Linked DNA regions of Homo sapiens. The protein of the gene in region 2 interacts with the protein of the main gene of each other region in a biochemical or structural test. Each region holds a gene or a part of one and is shown on either strand. Other genes may lie near its edges. The genes, in order: NOTCH2, DLL1 and NOTCH3.

Region 1 (7,288 bases), on a different chromosome or scaffold from region 2:
CACATACTCTGTGCAAGGCAAAGAACCAACTACTGTGGAGTTTACAAACATGAATAAGGGGTAAGAAATGACTCTTGTCACATGGCTTACAGTCCAGCTGTGTGGGCCACCACAGTTCATATCTTTCAGGATGGGGACTGGATGAGAGGAAAGTGGACTCAAAATTAATCCCAGTGCTCTCTACTTTCCCATATCCCTGTGCTTTATCTCTGTTGTAGTTATGTTATTTGTATGTTGGCCTGCCTCACTGCTCTGTGATCTCCAAAGAACAGGGACTGGGTTTTATTTATTTCTGCATTGCCGCAGAGCCTAGTATGTGCTTTGTAGAGAACAGGCTCTCAAAAAAATTTTAAATTAAAAGAATTTATTCACTTGTTTATGTTTCCTAGTTACAGTGGGTCAGCTTGTTCTGTGCTAACATGGAAGTGACAAGAAGCTGGTGTCCCTCTACACAGAGGTCCCCACACTAAATATCATCTTGGATGTGCTTCACATTGTTGCACAAAGGTACAGTGGAGTGAGACTGAGTAAGAGGACAGAAATAGTGGGGGGTTTGTCTCAGCTCACTAATTACTTATTTAACCTTGGGCAAGATACTTAAAGCTCTATCTCAGTTTCTTCATCTGCAAAATGGGTATAATAATGACTGGGGTGCCTATTTCCCACGATTGTTTTGAGGATCAAATGAGATAATATAATTAAAAGTGTTTTTGGAAGGTCTAAATCACTGCGCAACTGCAAGGCATTATTAAAAGAAATCTTCCTTTTAATTCCTGCTTCCACAAACATCTCATCACATATCCTTGGGTTCCTGGGTTACATGGAGAGATTCGTGGTGTAGCTCAATCTATGTGTCATAGCTATCCCACAATCTCTTCTTCAACTTCTCCAACACACCAAGACATTCTTCCAGTCTTGCATTGTTCCCCAGTTTATATAGATATATATGTTCCTCATTCAGCATTTATGTAAAACATATATTATTGAGCACTTATGTGATAGAAACCGAGGCAAAACAGAAAATAAAACAGAGTTTTATTTTGAGAGTTTTTTTTACAGCTTATCGGCTCTGAGAGGACAGACATGAGAACAAATAAGTGCCCAATTCTGCATTTATTTTGGAAGGCAGTTTTATGTGAGTTTAAATCAGTAAAGACATAGATGTATATTTTTAGTTTTGATTAAAACTAAAACAATTGGTAGCCCTTATTCATATTTTTCTATCATTAAAACTTATCTTTAAAAAATGTCTTCAGTCATATTTTTCCCTTACTTCCATTCATATTTACTCTTTACTTCTCTTGTCCTTACCAGAATGTATGCAGTAAGTTTTCATATTGTAACATATTCAACAAAAGTTATATGTGAACATAATAGCTGCTTTCTTTAAAACGGTTACTTTGAGAAACTGCATACCTATTTTTTTTTTTTTTTTTTTTTTGAGACGGAGTTTCACTCTTGTTGTCCAGGCTGGAGTACAGTGGCACGATCTTGGCTCACTGCAATCTCTGCCTCCTGGGTTCAAGTGATTCTACTGCCTCAGTCTCCTGAGTAGCTGGGATTACAGGTGCTCGCCACCATGCCCGGCTAATTTTTGGTATTTTTAGTAGAGACGGGTTTTCAACATGTTGGCCAGGCTGGTCTCAAACTCCTGACCTCAGGTGATCTGCCCACCTCAGCTTCCCAAAGTGCTGGGATTATGACATAAGCCGCCACGCCTGGCCTGCACATTTATTTTAATAATGTTGTCATAGCTACAGTCGCTTCTAGAGTTGCTCTTTGGGGATAACTATCTTATATTCTTCTGAATATATTTTAATAGTGACAAAACTTATCTTTGCAGGTGATTTTTAAAATTTGTATGCAGCCAAGTCACTATGAATTATCTTTAGTGAGTAAAGAGGAAGATCGAACTGGTAACACTGTGGGTAAACAACTGAAAAATAATGTTATCTTTCTCTGAACATACTTGCACAAGACAAATTCCAAAAATATTTTGACTACATTATTTTTGAAAAGGGTTTCCAGTATTTCAATGTGACTACTTTCACTAATGGTACTTGCTTACCTAAAGTGCTTGTTAACATGCAGTTTTGGAACTTCATAGGTCTATGCCCATACTGACTTGTACTTGCTTAGTGTTGTTTCACATTCTAGTTCAACATCTATTATGTGATAGACACTGGGGATTAATAGGCTGTGGTCTTTGCCCATGAGGACCTCAAAACTTAGTTGAGAACACAGAAATACAAAGAGTCCTGTGTGAAAAATAAGTATCGGTGTTAAGATAAAGAAGCGGCAGTGGAAGACAGTGGAGGGACTGTCTGTTAGGGGGAGGAATTTATTGCGGTGTCGGCAAAGCCTTCTTTGGACTGAAGGATGAATTATGATTAGAAGTTCATTAAGAGGAGGAGGGAAGGGGACTACAGGAGTCATTCCAAGCCAAAGGAACAAAAGATACAGGGACAGAAACAGCAAGATATGTTTGGGGGAATCTCAAGTTAGTCAATACTGTTATTGTGTGAAGTTCACAACAGGGGCAGGGAGGACAGGAGATGGGGCCCAATGACGAAAAGGCCTTGTATGTACCATGTTTAGAAGTTTGAATTTTATCCTATAGGAGTCAGGGAGAGGTTCTATGGGTAGGATTTCCCATCCCAACAGGATTGTAAACTCCCACATCCAATTAGTCACACCTCCATTTTTTTTTTCTGTTTCTTTAACATTGTCTCGGATTCATTCCTTCTGAAATCTACCTTATTAGTTCAGGTCTTCTTAAATTTGTGCCTGGACTGTTCACCAACTCTTGACTGGTCCTGGGGCTCCAGTTCACCTCTTGCTCCCCCAACAATCAATTTTCTACAGAATTATCAGAGCAATCTTCCTTTCCATCAATCTCAACTCTGTTCAAAAACTTTCAATAGTTTTATGTGACCTAAGAGGTAGCTGCCTCCCCACCCTTTCAGCTTGCCATTCAAGGCTGCATAATTTGGTCCCAACCCCCTTTCCGTCCTTGACTCCTCTCACTGCTAACAGAGACAGAACTCATTTACTTACTCTTTTGACTGTACCTTTGCTTTCACGAGGGCTCTTTCCTGGAATGATATGTCCATACAACTATTGTTGCTGTTCTTACTTTTAGCTCTTTTCTTAGAAGCCCACTTGTACCCAGGTTTGATCACACCCCCTACTCTCCTGCCCTGGAAGTAACTACTATTCTGGTTATAGTCTCTTAATATCTATATCTATATATATGCATCCACAGATAATGTGTAGTATTGTCTTGAAAAAAATATACATAAATGGTATACTTTGTCTCCCTCTGTGATTAGTTTTTTCACTATCATTTAGTTTTTAAGATTTATCCCTATTGACATAAATAGCTATAGTCTTTTCAATTACTGTGTTGCATTTCATTTTATAAATATACCATACATTATTCATCCATTCCTCTAAGGGTGGGCATTTATGTTGTTTTCAAGGTTTTGCTATTACAGTGTTACAACGAATATCCTTAGCTTAGCTGGTCTCCTTGTCTTATACAAATTTTACTGACCTTTCAAGATCCTGCTTTCATCCCAGCTCCTCTGGGAAAGCCTTCCCTGAATCCCCCAGCCCACAGCGGCAAAGTCTTGGTACTCAAAGTTGCTTGTGCATCTTTGGTATCATCCCACTGCCAAGCACACAGCTACGCAAAGTAAGGCACTTAAGAAATATTCGCTACACGGATGAACAAATGAATGAATGAATGGGGCAGCACCACTCCGTGATGGCTCTATTCCTTTTTAATGGACTTTGGCGCCTTGGCCCACTTTCCTTCTTTGACAGCACTGGTCCTACTCCAGAGCATTCCTCTAGCTAGCAAAGCAGTGTGTGGATGTGTGGGTGTAGGTGGCGATACAGACCTCACTGGATGAGGACCGCCTCTCCCTGCAAGTTCACGATCCCGGCAAACTCCAGTGCTTGAAGTTCAGAGTCCTACCCCACCCCCCTCACCCCCACGCCCCTTCTGCACTGGTCAAGCCAGCGAGCCGCTGCAGCCCTGATCGAGTTAAGGCGCGGCGGCCCCCGGGGCCGCTGGAGAAGGATGCGGACGGGGCCAGTGACTCGTAGTAGATCCCTCCGCGCGGAGCTCGGGCCGGCGCTTCTTCCTGCGGGAAACCCCTGGGTGCCCAAGGCGGCGGGGCCGAGGCCGCGGCGACAGTGGGGCGGGGCTTGCGGTGGGAGGAGGCGGCTGAGGCGGAAGGACACACGAGGCTGCTTCGTTGCACACCCGAGAAAGTTTCAGCCAAACTTCGGGCGGCGGCTGAGGCGGCGGCCGAGGAGCGGCGGACTCGGGGCGCGGGGAGTCGAGGCATTTGCGCCTGGGCTTCGGAGCGTAGCGCCAGGGCCTGAGCCTTTGAAGCAGGAGGAGGGGAGGAGAGAGTGGGGCTCCTCTATCGGGACCCCCTCCCCATGTGGATCTGCCCAGGCGGCGGCGGCGGCGGCGGAGGAGGAGGCGACCGAGAAGATGCCCGCCCTGCGCCCCGCTCTGCTGTGGGCGCTGCTGGCGCTCTGGCTGTGCTGCGCGGCCCCCGCGCATGGTGAGTATCGGGCTGAGGGGCGCTGTCCGCGGCGCCCGGGGCTGCCACCTGGGGCGACCCTTCTCCCCCTCGGTCCTTCTCTGTGTGGGAAGGCCAGGCTCGGCCGCCGGCGCGGAGCGAGGCCACTCGCTGGGTTCCCAAGAGTTTGGACATCGCCGGGGGCCCCTCCCGTGGTGCCCCGCCAACCGCCGGGGTTCCCCGCCGCCTCTGCTCCCCGCGGCCCGGGACCCCTTACACGCCTCCTCGGCAGGAGGGAGGCCGGCAGCAAGTCTCAGAAACTCCTTTTTCGTAGTGCCAGGGTGCAGGGAGGTGGGCAGTTTTGCCCTTCAGGTTCCGCGTTTCTTGGGGTCGAGCGAGAGCCGACGGCGGGCCTCGGAGGGGCTGAGCGAAGGAATGCCAGATTCTGGCGTGGAGAGCGGGGGCAGGGCCGCCAAGCCAAACGGCCTGCACCGTCGCAGCCAGCCTCGCCTTTGCCAGGGGGCGGCACATGGGCCGGGTGTGTGGGCTTGGTTTGGATGGGGACGGGGTTTTGCGGCGCGCCTGAGTTTTGACACTCCAACCCCACCGAAAGTCCGGGGGAGCCGTGTGTGCTGCTCGCGTCTTTGAAAGGTGGAGGCAGGAGAAGTAGGGCAACTGGTGTGGCTGCATGCTGAGGCACATGATTTAAAAATCTCAACTGCTGTTATTCTTTCCGAGGCGCGGAGCTCTGCTGCTGTTTCAGGCTGTGTCCAGACCCAGGAATGTGGTGTGACGATCACCAATTCCTCCAACCTGGCAGCAGCATTTGCTGCTCCTTTGGCATGGCTGGGGGTGGGGCACGGGCGGGTGAGAAAAAGTGGATACGTTAATTCAAAGGGCTTCCTTAGAAAGCTTCTTTATGGTTGGATGTTTCTAACACGGTTGGACCAAGGAAAGGGAATCAAATCATATCTTCCCCATCCCACCCACACTTTTAGATTCTACATTTCTTCAGACCCTTTAGTGGAAATAACTTGGGCTTTGGAGCCCTGCTCTGTAATCCTGGATTCAAATCCAGCTCTGCTATATGAACTCACCAATAAAATGGGAAAGAAATTATCCAGCTAATAGGATTAATTAAAATAATGTATATTAAACGGATGACACTCCAAAGGTGTTCAGAAAGTCCTTTCAGGGCCGAGGCTGTGTTTTACTGCTTCTGAGATTGATGCTCCCAGTGGGATGCTGTCTTGTGCATATTTGTTGAACGGAAAGCAGCCCCTTCTTTTTCTGAGCCTAATCTGAATAAAGATTTTTACCTTCACCAAAAAACTAGTACATGAACTACATCTGTTTTCAAAGAAAAGGTTAGGAAGATGATGAGCTTCAGAAAAATATGGTCTTTGTTCATTGTTAACAGTCAGTCGACATGTCAATCGCAGATGTTTAAAAAGAGAACAAGGTTATTTATCACCCGAAAATAGTACTGGGTTGTTCAGCACCAACTAGATACTTCTTGGAAAGTTCAAATTTCGTACACGTCTAGGTCACTAAGAATTTCAGAAGTGGACCAGGAGGCTTTGTAGTGATGAAGCAGAGCCGTTGTTTCTGAAGCATTTAATAAAGAGCATATATGATGGTGTTTTTGCTTTTCCTTTTTCTTTGAGTGAAAGCTTTAAGTGTAGCTTTAGGATAGAGAGGAGTATGATCAATGAGACAGTCTGAGGGTAATAATCCTTGGTCTATCATTAACTTGTTTTGGTAAATAACTTAATCTTCATGATATGTAGTCTCCTCACCTATGAAGCAGGACTAAAGGAATAACCTGCTTTAGAGAATTGTAGGGAATAATAAATATAATTGTAAAGTGATTTGAAAAATTAAGTATTAAATAATATGATATCAGAAATGGGATTACTCTGACACATAGGGCTTCTTTTATTATAGGATCTCAGTGCATAAAACTATGCCCTCCACCTCTGCTCTGCTGAGGTGCTGCGATTATTAGCTAGCTTTTAGGTAGTCAAGTTGAGTGTTAGTCAAGTTGACTCAAAGGATAGGATTTAGATATTTTGATTTTTAGACAGGTGTTCTTTAGATGCTAAACTAATGCAGTAGAAGAGATTTAGAAGCCGTTTCTCGGTACAAATCTTAAATCTTCTTAGAGTCTACAGTGAAGGCTTCTTGAATCCTCTTAATTTATTATTGTGTTTTGCTAAGGTACCAGTTGCAGCACACCCTTCTAAACTTTTGAGTGTTCCTGTGTTTGGCTTGTGGCCAATTGTTAATTTAAACATCACGGAGTTTCTAAGGCAAGGAGATGTTAGCAGTATGTCTGATTGTCTAAACAGCTATCCAGGACCATCCTCTTGCTCCTTGTTTTCTTTTGCTTTGCAATGGGAAGTGACTCCCTGATTTTGCTGCCTGCTAGATAATTTCTCAGCTGAATTCTTCTCTTGCTTAAACAAAATCGGAGTAATTTTCTTTCAGATGGTGATGAAATTTAACCTAAAACTATTTTTCCTTTCACTTTCTTATTATTCCTTTTTTTTTGGTGTGGTGGAGAGGAGGAGGAGAGTGATTCCTAGTCTCTCTTATTTTTCTGAATGTTTAGATTTAAAAAATATTTACCCATAACTTCTTGGGATCTCTCTGCTCCATTCCCACCCTACTGCCTCTCCTGTAGGCTTCTATGACATAGAGGAGCAACTTTTGGTTCACCTGGATTGTAGTTGCTGACTTCAGGA
Region 2 (6,491 bases):
TACCATAAGGAACCCGGGCTTAGCGGGGGGCAAAGCGGCAAATGAGGGGTCAGCCCACAGGGAGCCCGTGCGGTCCTGCTGAGCCAGCAGGCGGGACGCGCTTAGAGACGGGGCTGCCCACCGACGGGAAGCGGAGGAGCAGCTTCCGTGACTCCCACGCCCCGTCTGGGGCCATGTTGGCGTCAAACGGCGACAAAATCATGACAGCTGTGACCCACTGGGTACAAAATAACTCACAAGTCTACACTGACATGAATGAATGAATGAATGAATGAATGAATGAATGAATGAGGAACGCTCATTCTTTCTGCGGAAAGAACTAATAAATGCATGGGGGGATGGAATTAGAAAATCGCGGCTGCTTCATGCGCGTGCCTGCTCTTACCAAGTCACCTCATGATGGCCAGCAAGCAGCTTCCTGAGGGAGGAGAGGAACGGGCTGCTTCTCATGGATCCAGGGAAACCAAAGCCTTGAAAAGAGAAACACCAAGGCCACCTCTGCCCTCAGCCTCGCGGGCCGCAGGTGAGTGAGCACACCTCCGCTCTAAGGCAAAGCCAAGTAACTACGCCTTCTGGTTGTCATTCATAAAATTTATTTTGGAAAAATATTTTAAAAAGGAATTTCTTCATTAACAAAACAGTAAAAAACTCAAATAACATTTGCACAATATTCCATAAATACATTTATATACAAAAAAATATAGTCACATAGACCCGAAGTGCCTTTGTACATATTTACCAAAATTTAAATTATAAAAAACGAACATCACAAAATACTCAAGCTTTACAGATATCATGAAAAATATTTTTACAAATCCAAAAAATAACACACATCTTTTCCATCTAGAAAAAGCACATCTTCGTATCAAAAAGGACAATAAAGGCAGTGTTTGTGTTTCTAATTCAAGAAAAGACTGGCTCATAAGAATCCAAAATATACACTCAGGCAGTGCATGCTTCTTATGCGTAATTCAGTTCACCCATTTAAATATATATTCTCTTAAGAGCAACTGTCCATAGTGCAACGGCGACGTCACGGAAGGCAGTGCCGCAGGCGGCCGGGCCGCGACAGGCTGTCGGCAGGCGTCGAGGACCTCAGGAGGAGAACCTGCTCGGTCTGAACTCGGTTTCTCAGCAGCAGTCCACGAGGCCTCCCTCCTCTTCAGCAGCATTCGTTGGGGCATATATCCTTGGAATTTTACTTATTTTAAGAGAAACGGGAGTCTTGCCATCTCACTTCCATTTTACACCTGGGGGGCCACAAGACAAATGGGAAGTTAGCCTGAGACCGATTCCCGTGCTCCAGCTTCAGGTGCTCCCATGCCGAGGAGGAGGGAGCGGCTGCTGCCTGCACTGACCTCAGTTGCTATGACGCACTCATCCTTCTCCTCGGATATGACGTACACCGACTGGTACTTGGTGTCTTTTGAAGTTGAACAGCCCGAGTCCGGCCTTTTTCTTTCAGATGCTTCTCCACTAAAAGGAAAATAGAGAAAATCCACAATGAATGCATGAGAACATTTGGGAAGAGAAACGGAGCAGTGGTTCCAGGAAGACACCCCCCAGGTACCCCCTCCTGATGCCCGGCCCGCAGCACGCACCCCCTGAGTGTGGTCGGGGTCCCCTTCTCCTCCCCTGAGGAGCCCTGGGGCTGGCACTTGGTGTCACGCTTGCTGTGCGCGTCCCTGACGGCGGTGTCGTCACCCTTGAGGTCCTGCACGAGGTTATAGTCCACCGCTGGGTAGCGGGCCTTGAAGCCATTCTTGTCGGCGCTGTGGTCCCCGTGGAAGTCCGCCTTCTTGTTGGTGTTCTTGATCTGCGTGGCCCCGATGATGCTGACTGAGATGTCCTTCTCACGCTGGCAGTTGGCCAGGTTGTTCATGGTCTCCGTCTCCCCCCGGCAGGGGTCGGCTGGGGGCCGGTGCTTCTGCAGCCTCAGCCGGACGCAGACCACCACAGCGGCACAGCCCAGCAGCAGCATGAGGACAAGGATGACCCCGGCGCACACGGCCACCCAGGGGAATGGCCCGCCCTGGCCCTCTAGCTTCTCAGTGAGGTCCACCACCGCTGGGCCCGGGGGCAGCTCGGGGAGCAGGAACTGGCAGTTGGGACCCCCGTAGCCTCGGGCACACTCGCACACATAGCGGTGGCCCCTCTCGTGGCAGGTGGCCCCATTGTGGCAGGGTGCGTGCTCGCACCTGCTGACGGGGGCACTGCAGTTCCTGCCCGTGTAGCCAGGCGGGCAGGTGCAGGAGAAGTCGTTCACGCCATCCCGGCAGGTGCCCCCGTTGGCGCACGGGGAGGAGGCGCAGTCGTCCACGTTGTCGTCACAGTGCCTCCCCGAGAAGCCGGCCTGGCAGCGGCACAGGTAGGCATCACCGAGGTCCACACACTTGGCACCTGGAACACAGGGACATGAACATCACGTGTCTCCTCGTAGGTTTGTTCACCAAAAAGTCACTCTGAAGCATCTATCTGTCTGACACTGTAGAAACCAGACAAACCAAAGACAGTCTGTGGCCTGAATGAGTCCACAGCGCAAGGTGACATGGTTTAGGACCTCAAATACGAGAGGTGTCCAGGTCTAGCTCTACAAGTCAGAAACCACACGGCCAGCATCTGGACAGGCGCTGTGCAGAACACTCTGGTGGCTGCATTAGTCGCCACAACAGCCGGGCAAGAGCATGTGCCACTCGACCCAGGTTTCAGATGGGGAAACTGAGGCTTAACGAGGGTGTCCTTGCCCACAGTTACACAGCAAGTGAGAGGAGCAGGCACTGACAACAGGGGAGGGAGGGAGGGGAAGGATGACCATTCCGGAATGCTCCGGCACATCTGGGGCCCAGCTCTCCTTGCTGTGTGTCTCCTTTGGGCAGCCAGCCCCTCGCTGCTAGCAGGAGGCTCTCTGTCCTCACTCAGGGACACCCCCAACTACTGTGCTGGGTGGCCACACAGCTGGGCCATCCTCCCAAGCTGGAGTGGCCGGCACCTGTGGGCATCACTTACTGAACCTCAGGCGGCCGCAGGTGCCCGAAGCACCTTGTGGCCCTGAGCAAGTCATTCACTGCTTGGTCTAGGTTTCCACAGAGAACTTCATAACAAATGCCCTGGCCTCTCTCATTCCCCAGGCCTTTCCAGACTCAAAGATAGAGTTTCCATCGAGAATTCCTGGCGGTCTGGATAAAAGTGATTCATAAACTCGAGGTCACTCACAAATGCTTGTTTTTAATGCCACCTCAGTATTGACCGCTCGCCCGAGTCTCTGAGCAATCACCAGCTGCCCCCTTACCATTAGAACAGGGTGAAGAGCTGCAGTAGTCAATTTTCTTCTCACAGTTGAAGCCGGAGTAGCCCACGGGGCAGCGGCAGCTGTACCCTCCATCGGGGCTGTCTGAGCACCGACCCCCGTTAAAGCAAGGGCCGTCCGCACAGGTCATGGCACTCAATTCACAGATTTTGCCGTAGAAGCCGGGTGGGCAGGTACAGGAGTAGCTGTTCTCGAGATCCTACACGATGGAGAGGTCAGAAAAGGCTTTCCAAAGTTGCTCCAAGGAGCCCACACACTCCATTCAACACCAGGGCACCCCAGCTTCCGGGTGAGATGCCATGGAGCCTCCGACTCACCGTGCAGCTCCCTCCGTTCTTACAAGGGCTGGGGTCACACTCGTCAATCCCCAGCTCGCAGGTGGCACCTGTGTACCCAGGCCGGCAAGAGCAAGTGTAGCTCCCCTGGCCCGTGTTGGTGCAGGTGGCTCCATTCTTGCAGGGCTTATGGTGTGTGCAGTAGTTCAGGTCTGTGAAGGGTGGGGACAGGAAAAGTAGGAGATAGGAAGCTCGACATCAAATGCAGGAAGACTTTATTTTTCCAGTGATCAAACAGCCAGGGAAGTCCAGGGCTGCTCTGGAGGGAGCAGGCTGCCTCAGGGAGAGAAGGCTTACCCTGGTTGCAGAAAAGGCCCCCCCAGCCTTCCTGGCAGTTGCACTGCCAGGGCTGCTGGCAGGTGCCATGGAGACAGCCTGGATAGCGGATACACTCGTCACAGTACCGGCCCTGCCAGCCCACTCTGCACCTTGGAGAAAAGCAGAAGACTCAGATGGACGTTGACTGTTGCTGGCTTTGCAGTGGACATTCTCACCCTAGAAACCATCTTCCCGCAGCACCAGTGAGCCTCTGGTTCTCCAGATTAGCAGAACACTGGGTCACCTTGGGAGCTGCAGCCTGGGCCTGGGCCCCACCAGAGGTTCTGGCTTCTTGGGTGTTAGGGCAGCACCAGTGTCAGCATCTCAAAAATCACTCCCTGAGTGATTCTAGGATGAGGCAACATTTGAGAACCATTGAACTATACTATCATTTCCTGTGCCAACTCTTTTTAAACTACTATCTGTAAATTCTCATAGCCGTTAAGGGGCTTAGACGAATGACAACTCCATGACCTTACATGCTGCCAAACATTGATTAAGTAGAAACATGAGAAAACGGCCCCCTGTTCAATCAATCTTACTGGAGTTTTTCGAATGATCACCTAGGGCTGTTTTTACAAATACACCAGCTGTGAAAAGATAACAAGAAAAGGCAACAAAACAAAACACCACCTTGTGCAGACTTACTTGCATTCCCCTGGTTTGTCACAAAATCCATGCTGCTCATCACATCCAGGCAGGCAGATCGCTACAAGCAAAGGAAAAACAGGGTCAAGCCCCACGCCAAGTACGTCCCAACAGGGCTGCCGCCCTTGGGGCCAGGACACAACTCGCCGGCTTCAGTCAGCAAATCCCAGCTGAGTTAATCTTCCCAGGTTGTGGAGGACTGACCCCCCTGCCTAGTAGCCTGGGACTTGACTCAGCCCTGGGGATGAGCATTCTTCTTAACACAGGGGCTCAAGGACAAAAGGGCTCTCGGAAGCCCCCACCCCCACCCTATCCCCTTTTCTTCTAAGAGAGGGTCAGAAGTCTTCCCCCTCCTCCTCCCCCACTTCCCAATTCTGTGCACAAAGCTCCACCTCTTAATATCCCAGAAAGTGTGTGTGCAGATAAGAGTGGACAGCTGGTATGCAGGGTGCCAGGGCAGGACAGCTGCTCCATTGTCTGTCCTCCACGGCAGCTGCCCCAGCGCAACAATGCCGGCCTCCCCCGCGCCCCCGGCCCCACCTCCTCACACACACCCCTCGCGTGTACACACACACACACACACACACACGCACACGCACCCCTTCCGCCAATGGGAGCCGGCGGGTGTCCCTGCGCCTATCCCCGGAGAGATCTAATCTATGGCACGCGCGAGCTGGGGGCGGGGAGAGACTTCAGTGTTTGAAGAAAAAAGTTTAAGTTTCTGGCTACCCTGTGGTGAAGAGAGGCAGGGAGGAAGGGTGGGAGGCAGCAGACTGGCCAGAGGCTCCCGCAGGGCAGGGAGTAGACAGTGGGCTTGAGGCTTGGAGCTGGCTCTTGCTGCCTGGTTATGAAACTCATTAACAAGCAGCTCCACAAGTTGTTTTTTGTTTTTTTGTTTTTCCCCAGAACCAGTTCAGGCCAAGGCAAAGCTTAGAAGGAGCTCAGTAAGTTCCGGAGGGAATTTGGGAAGCTAAGGAGCAAGGACATCAAGGCACTCAGTGAATGGGAAGACCCACCCTCAACCCCAGGCACTACCCAGCTCCTGCCAGAGGTTCTGGGCCTCCCAGAGCCCCTCTCCAAGGTTGTCCAGTTCCAAGGAAGGAGAATGACAGTTCCCTGGAGTTTCTGGGCAGCTCCAGGACCTACCCAATCCCCAGCTGTAGAGAAATCCGGTACCAATGGGCTGGGACGGCCAGGCGTGCAGGCGAGGCCTCAGTCAGCTGGAGAGAGGGCTCCTGAGGTCCCCATGAGCCAGAACCAGGAGCCAGCACGGCCCCAACCCTGCCCTAGTCACCTGCCTGCCATGACATTGACACATCAATACCTAATAAGAGGCAGGTAGAGCCTCTGTCACTATTGGGAAGACATTGCTTCTCCAGACAAGGTGCTGCCTGAGCATTCAAGCCAGACGGGGCTGTGCACCCCTCGCCCACACAGGCCTTGGAGACCTGGCCTCAGCAGCCCACAGGAGTGAAAGCCTGCTCTCTGGCCAGCATAGACAGTGCGTGTCACAGGGAGTATCCGGAAAGGCGTTTGCTCCAGAGAGGTCAAGCACACCAGCTCCAGAGAGAAAATGGAACGTTTCCCAGTGTGATGCTGTTCCAGCACTGGGAACTCGGGTTGAAATGGTGCCCCTGACACACAAGCTCTCTCTGTGTTCCTCCCTTCCTTCCTCCTCTCCCTCTCTAATACACACACCCTGGGGGTAGCACTGGCTTTACTTCCTGACCCCTGGCCCTGTCTCTAAAATCCTCCCTGATTAAGAAAGGCAGTTCCGATAGTGGATAAACACAGCCTGGGATGTTAAAATGTCTGCGTTGACCCCAACCCCCCCACTGACGAGCTGTGACTTATAGCAATCCACTTCTGTCCTCTGGGCCTCA
Region 3 (4,576 bases), on a different chromosome or scaffold from region 2:
TGGGAGACTGAGGCAGGAGAATTGCTTGAACCCGGAGGCGGGGGATGCAGTGAGCCGAGATTGTGCCATTGCACTCCAGCCTGGGTGACAAGAACAAGACTCTATCTTAAAAAAAAAAAAAAAAAAAGGAAGAAAGTAAAAGAAAAATCAATCACAATACTAGGAGTTTCTCTCTTCCCTGGAAGGAGCAATATGGCACCTATTTTGATAACACAGAGAGAAGGCTGGAGCTGTGTGATGTCGGGAAGAGAGGTTCTACTGGGTGCCATGTGGAGCATGTAGATGAAACTGATGCCCAGAGAAAGCTGTAGAGATGAAGAGAAACTGAGCCATTGTTGACCACATTTGAGCCACTAGATCAATTCTCCCCTGAAGTAGGTCCTTTTAATTTATATGAGCTAATAAACCCCTTTCTTGTTTAAGCCAGTAGACTTTTGTGTCATTTGCAACCAGGAGCACTCCAACTGACAGAATCAACGAACATTAAATCCTATCCTCCTTTCCTGAAGACACCAGTGTAAACAGAACCTTGTCTTGGAGCACGACTGGTTGCGAGTAACAGAAACCCACCGAAGCTGGCACAAGTAAAGAAGTATTTATTACATGGGTCCAAGGTTATCTCCAAAACCCATAGGAGCATGAAGTAAAAGTGAAATTCATGCAGAACCATGATCAGATACTTAGAAAGCAATTAATAAATACCTGTTGATCTCAATGGAATGAACACTCAATTAACTGGAATTGATAACTGCACTGGGAGCCGAGATAACCCCCCCAGCCCTCAAGGAGCCATTTGAGCTCTCATTTCTGATTCTCCCTGAATATTAGCTTCATTCTTCTGCCCTGTTTGCTTGTCTCTTTGCCCACCACCTCGAATTGGCCACTGATATTTCTAAATCTGATTGTGACCTTAAGAGCTCCACCAACTGACAACTTTCTTAGCCTCTCCATTAAAGAAAGTTCTCGAGCAAAAGAATCTGATTGGCTCAGCTTAAGTCAGGTGACAACCACTAATCCAATCGGTAGTCATCTGCCAAAAGAGGAAGCATAAGTAGACTGGCAAGTCAAATGTATTTACCCCAAGATGGGAGCTCAAGTTAGCCCTGGGTGGGGGAGATAGAAGTCCCACTGCCACCACTCCCCACCTTACCTAGACACAGACCAACAACACTGAGTGTTAACTATTCCTTTATTAGGTGGTGAGGGGAGTGGGGGGCTGTACAATGCAGGGCTTGGGAATTCAGCTACACAGGGATTTTGACCAGAAGCCATATTACAAAAATAGCCTAAAAATACCTCTATTCTGCCATGAGGCTGGGCCAGAGGATTACCAGGAAGAGAAAGTACCACTCAGGCAGCTCCTCTTCTTGTAGTCCCACATTTACAGGGACACAAAGGAATGCATACATCTGCCCTGGCTCCCATTTCCCACCAGCAGCCCCCTAGTTCCCAAAGGGAGATGGCCAAGGGTGGGGCTGGGGCAGAGGGAGTTGGCAGTGGGCCCTTCCCCAGCAAGGCTATGGAACATGTCCCATCTGGAATGCAGTGAAGTGAGGGAGGTGGGGTGGGGAGGAGGCTCCCAACACTCCCCCGACCCCTGGCCCCAGTGGGTGCGCCCAAGGGTGCCTACTTGGTACATACCTGGGTCGTGTACTCGGTACACGGGATCCCAGTCATGCCTGTGTACTAGGTACACAGAATCCAGCTTGGCCGAATGGGCCCACAGACTCAGCCCCACGGGGGCACTGGGGGGTTCACAGGGGGAGGGAGCATCTCCATATATATATTTTGTAAAAAATAATAATAATAAGTTTGTTTAAATGAATTTGTTTCTATACAAAATGTAAAAAAAAAAAGAAAAATAAAAATAATAATAATTCATTCATGTCAGAGTGTAAGGAAATGAGAGGCCAGAAGGAGAGAGAAAGGAATGAGGGAAGAGAGAAGTGGGGAAGAAGGAGGTCCCAGACTCTTCACAAGACTGAGAGGGTGGGTGGTAGCCCCCACCCATTATAAATAAAGGAAGACTGAAGCCCTGGGCTGATGACCTATCTCGGTCACGCTGCAAGGCAAGGATGCAGGAGGGTTGGTGGAAAGAGAAGAGGATGAAAAAGACTAAAAGGAAGGAAGAGACAGAGAAAGAAAGGAGGCAGGACGGGGGTCTCTTTAGGCCCCCAAGATCTAAGAACTGACGAGCGTCTCAGGCCAACACTTGCCTCTTGGGGGTAACTTCCGGCTGGGGCCCCAGCTGGGTCTGGGCCTGAGCAAGGGAGCTGGGAACAGACAAGGGAAGTGGCTGGGCAGGCAGTGCCCCAGTGGTGGTGGCCATGGCCCCAGTGGCAGTGGCTGGGCTAGGCGTGGATTCGGACCAGTCTGAGAGGGAGGGAGGTGAGGGGCTGGCCCAGTGCTCAGGGGATTCGGGGGATGGGGTCAGGTAAGGGTGCTCACTGGGAACCCGCAGGAAGCGGGCCTTTGGGGGGCTGCTGTGTGCCCCAGCCGCCGGGTACTCCTCGCCATGTCCTGGGACTGCCAGGTAAGGCGGGGGCCGCTCCTGCGGGGAGACGGGGGTCCCTGGGTTGAGCAGCTGGGGTCCCGGCGCCAGTGGCAGCAGGAACGAGGGGCCTGGAGGGGCAGGTGGGGGCAGCCGGGCCCAATCGAGGGGCACAGCCACAGGGTTCAGCAGGCCCAGGCTGAGTACACATCCTCCAGGGGGCTGGCGCCCTAGACCCGCCCGGCCTGGGCCACCAAGCTGTGCCAGAGACACTGCAGTGGCAGTGGCAGCTGCATAGGGCCCCTCAAGGGGGAAGCCACCAGGGGAAGCAGGGGGCCCACCGAAAGGCCGCGGGGAGTCCAGCGAGTCCACGGGCGACAGCGTGACCGAGCTGTCAGCCAGGGGGCCCGGGCAGGCCAGCGTCAGCTTCTTGCCCCGCCCCCGGGGCCCCTGCGGCCCCAGCCCCGCCTTCCCGGGGGGCCTCCTGCTCTTCTTGGACCCCGACTGTGCCGCTTTGAGGCCAGGGAGGAAGGCCCCTGGAGGACAGAGCAGAGGCCCCAGGCCGTGGGGACCGGGGGGGCTGCGGGGCCCACTGGGTTGATCCAGCAAGCGCACGATGTCCTGGTGCAGTCTCTCCTGGGCTACGTCCCGCGGCAGCCTGTCCAGGTGGTCGGTGATCTCACGGTTGGCAAAGTGGTCCAACAGCAGCTTGGCAGCCTCATAGCTGCCCTCGCGGGCGGCCAGGAATAGGGGGGTCTCCTCCTGGGGGGCCAGAACCCACAGAGGTCAGCGAAACCCCAGCTAACAGTAGCAAAGTCTTCCAGCCTCTTGGGGGAGCCCGAGAGCTATGAGTTTGTACACTGGAGCTTGACAGACCTGGGTTAAATCCCGGCTGTGCTGGGGGAGCCTGGACAAGTTCTTTCCTCTAAACCACATTCATCCATCACCTACTAAGTGCCAGAGGTCAAGGCCAGGACTAGGGTGAGTTAAGCGAGGTACTCACCTTAGGCATAACTTTTTTTTTCTTGTCTTTTTTTTTTTTTTTTTTTGACAGAGTCTCACTGTGTCGCCCAGGCTGGAGTGCAGTGGCGCCATTTCAGTTCACTGCAACCTCAGCCTTCCGGGTTCAAGCGATTCTCCTGCCTCAGCCTCCCGAGCAGCTGGGACTACAGGTGTGCACCACTACGCCCAGCTAATTTTTGTATTTTTAATAGAGACAGGGTTTTACTACGTTGGCCAGGCTGGTCTCAAACTCCTGAACTCAAGTAATCCACCCATCTCGACCTCCCAAAGTGCTGGGATTATAGGCATGAACCACCACACCCAGCCATTAGGCACAAAATTTAAGGGGCCCCCAAAAACTTTAGTCACCAAAGTAAATTATATTTTAATCCAATGTTTGGGGTTTTATTTTGTTTTGTTTTTTGAGAGAGTCTCACTCTGTTGCCCAGGCTGGATTGCAATGGCACTGTGCCACTGCTGACACCCAGTGGACCAAGGGCTGGGGCTCACCTTGCTATCCTGCATGTCCTTATTGGCTCCATTTTTGAGCAGGGCCAAAGTGGCTTCCACGTTGTTCACAGCCGCAGCCCAGTGTAAGGCTGATTTCCCTGGAGGATGAAGGGGAGAGAGGTCAGGACCAGGCACCTGTCCTGGGGCCCCCATGTCAGGGAGGCAGAAATTGTCTAGAATGTGGCCTAGGGGTAGAGGAGGCAGGCCTGCCGTGAATATCCAAGTACTTGTGTCTGGATCCATGTGTGTGCAAATCTGCAAAATGACTCTGTGCAATGGGGAAGCACTTTGTGTCTGTGTGTGTGTGTTTGTGTGTGTGTGTGTGTGTGCGTGCATGTGCATGACTGTTTATACACAGGGGGTGCTGTGTGGACCTCCTTCAGTTGAACCTAGGGTTGTGACATCCAATACAGTAGTCAGTCACATGTGGTTTTTATTTATCCATTTATTTATTTTTGAGGTAGTGTCTTGTTCTGTCACCCAGGCTGGAGTCCATTGGCACAATCTCAGTTCACTGCAACCTCTACCTGCTGGGCTCAGGCGATTTTCCTGCCTCAGCCTCCCTAGTAGCTG

Evidence for each region.
Region 1: the proteins of DLL1 (region 2) and NOTCH2 form a complex in vitro, tested with the Homo sapiens proteins (one study listed by BioGRID).
Region 3: the proteins of DLL1 (region 2) and NOTCH3 form a complex in vitro, tested with the Homo sapiens proteins (one study listed by BioGRID).

The regions. Positions count from the first base shown.
Region 1 is NC_000001.11:120,066,629-120,073,916, reverse strand, and holds the start of NOTCH2 (neurogenic locus notch homolog protein 2 isoform 1 preproprotein), read left to right. Parts: upstream 1-4,254; 5' UTR 4,255-4,510; coding exon 4,511-4,583; intron 4,584-7,288. UniProt on the Homo sapiens protein: Functions as a receptor for membrane-bound ligands Jagged-1 (JAG1), Jagged-2 (JAG2) and Delta-1 (DLL1) to regulate cell-fate determination.
Region 2 is NC_000006.12:170,281,630-170,288,120, forward strand, and holds the end of DLL1 (delta-like protein 1 precursor), read right to left. Parts: intron 4,670-6,491; coding exon 4,609-4,669; intron 4,071-4,608; coding exon 3,940-4,070; intron 3,795-3,939; coding exon 3,625-3,794; intron 3,507-3,624; coding exon 3,290-3,506; intron 2,401-3,289; coding exon 1,602-2,400; intron 1,477-1,601; coding exon 1,359-1,476; intron 1,251-1,358; coding exon 1,245-1,250; 3' UTR 577-1,244; downstream 1-576. UniProt on the Homo sapiens protein: Transmembrane ligand protein of NOTCH1, NOTCH2 and NOTCH3 receptors that binds the extracellular domain (ECD) of Notch receptor in a cis and trans fashion manner.
Region 3 is NC_000019.10:15,158,462-15,163,037, forward strand, and holds the end of NOTCH3 (neurogenic locus notch homolog protein 3 precursor), read right to left. Parts: intron 4,102-4,576; coding exon 4,004-4,101; intron 3,254-4,003; coding exon 2,201-3,253; 3' UTR 577-2,200; downstream 1-576. UniProt on the Homo sapiens protein: Functions as a receptor for membrane-bound ligands Jagged1, Jagged2 and Delta1 to regulate cell-fate determination.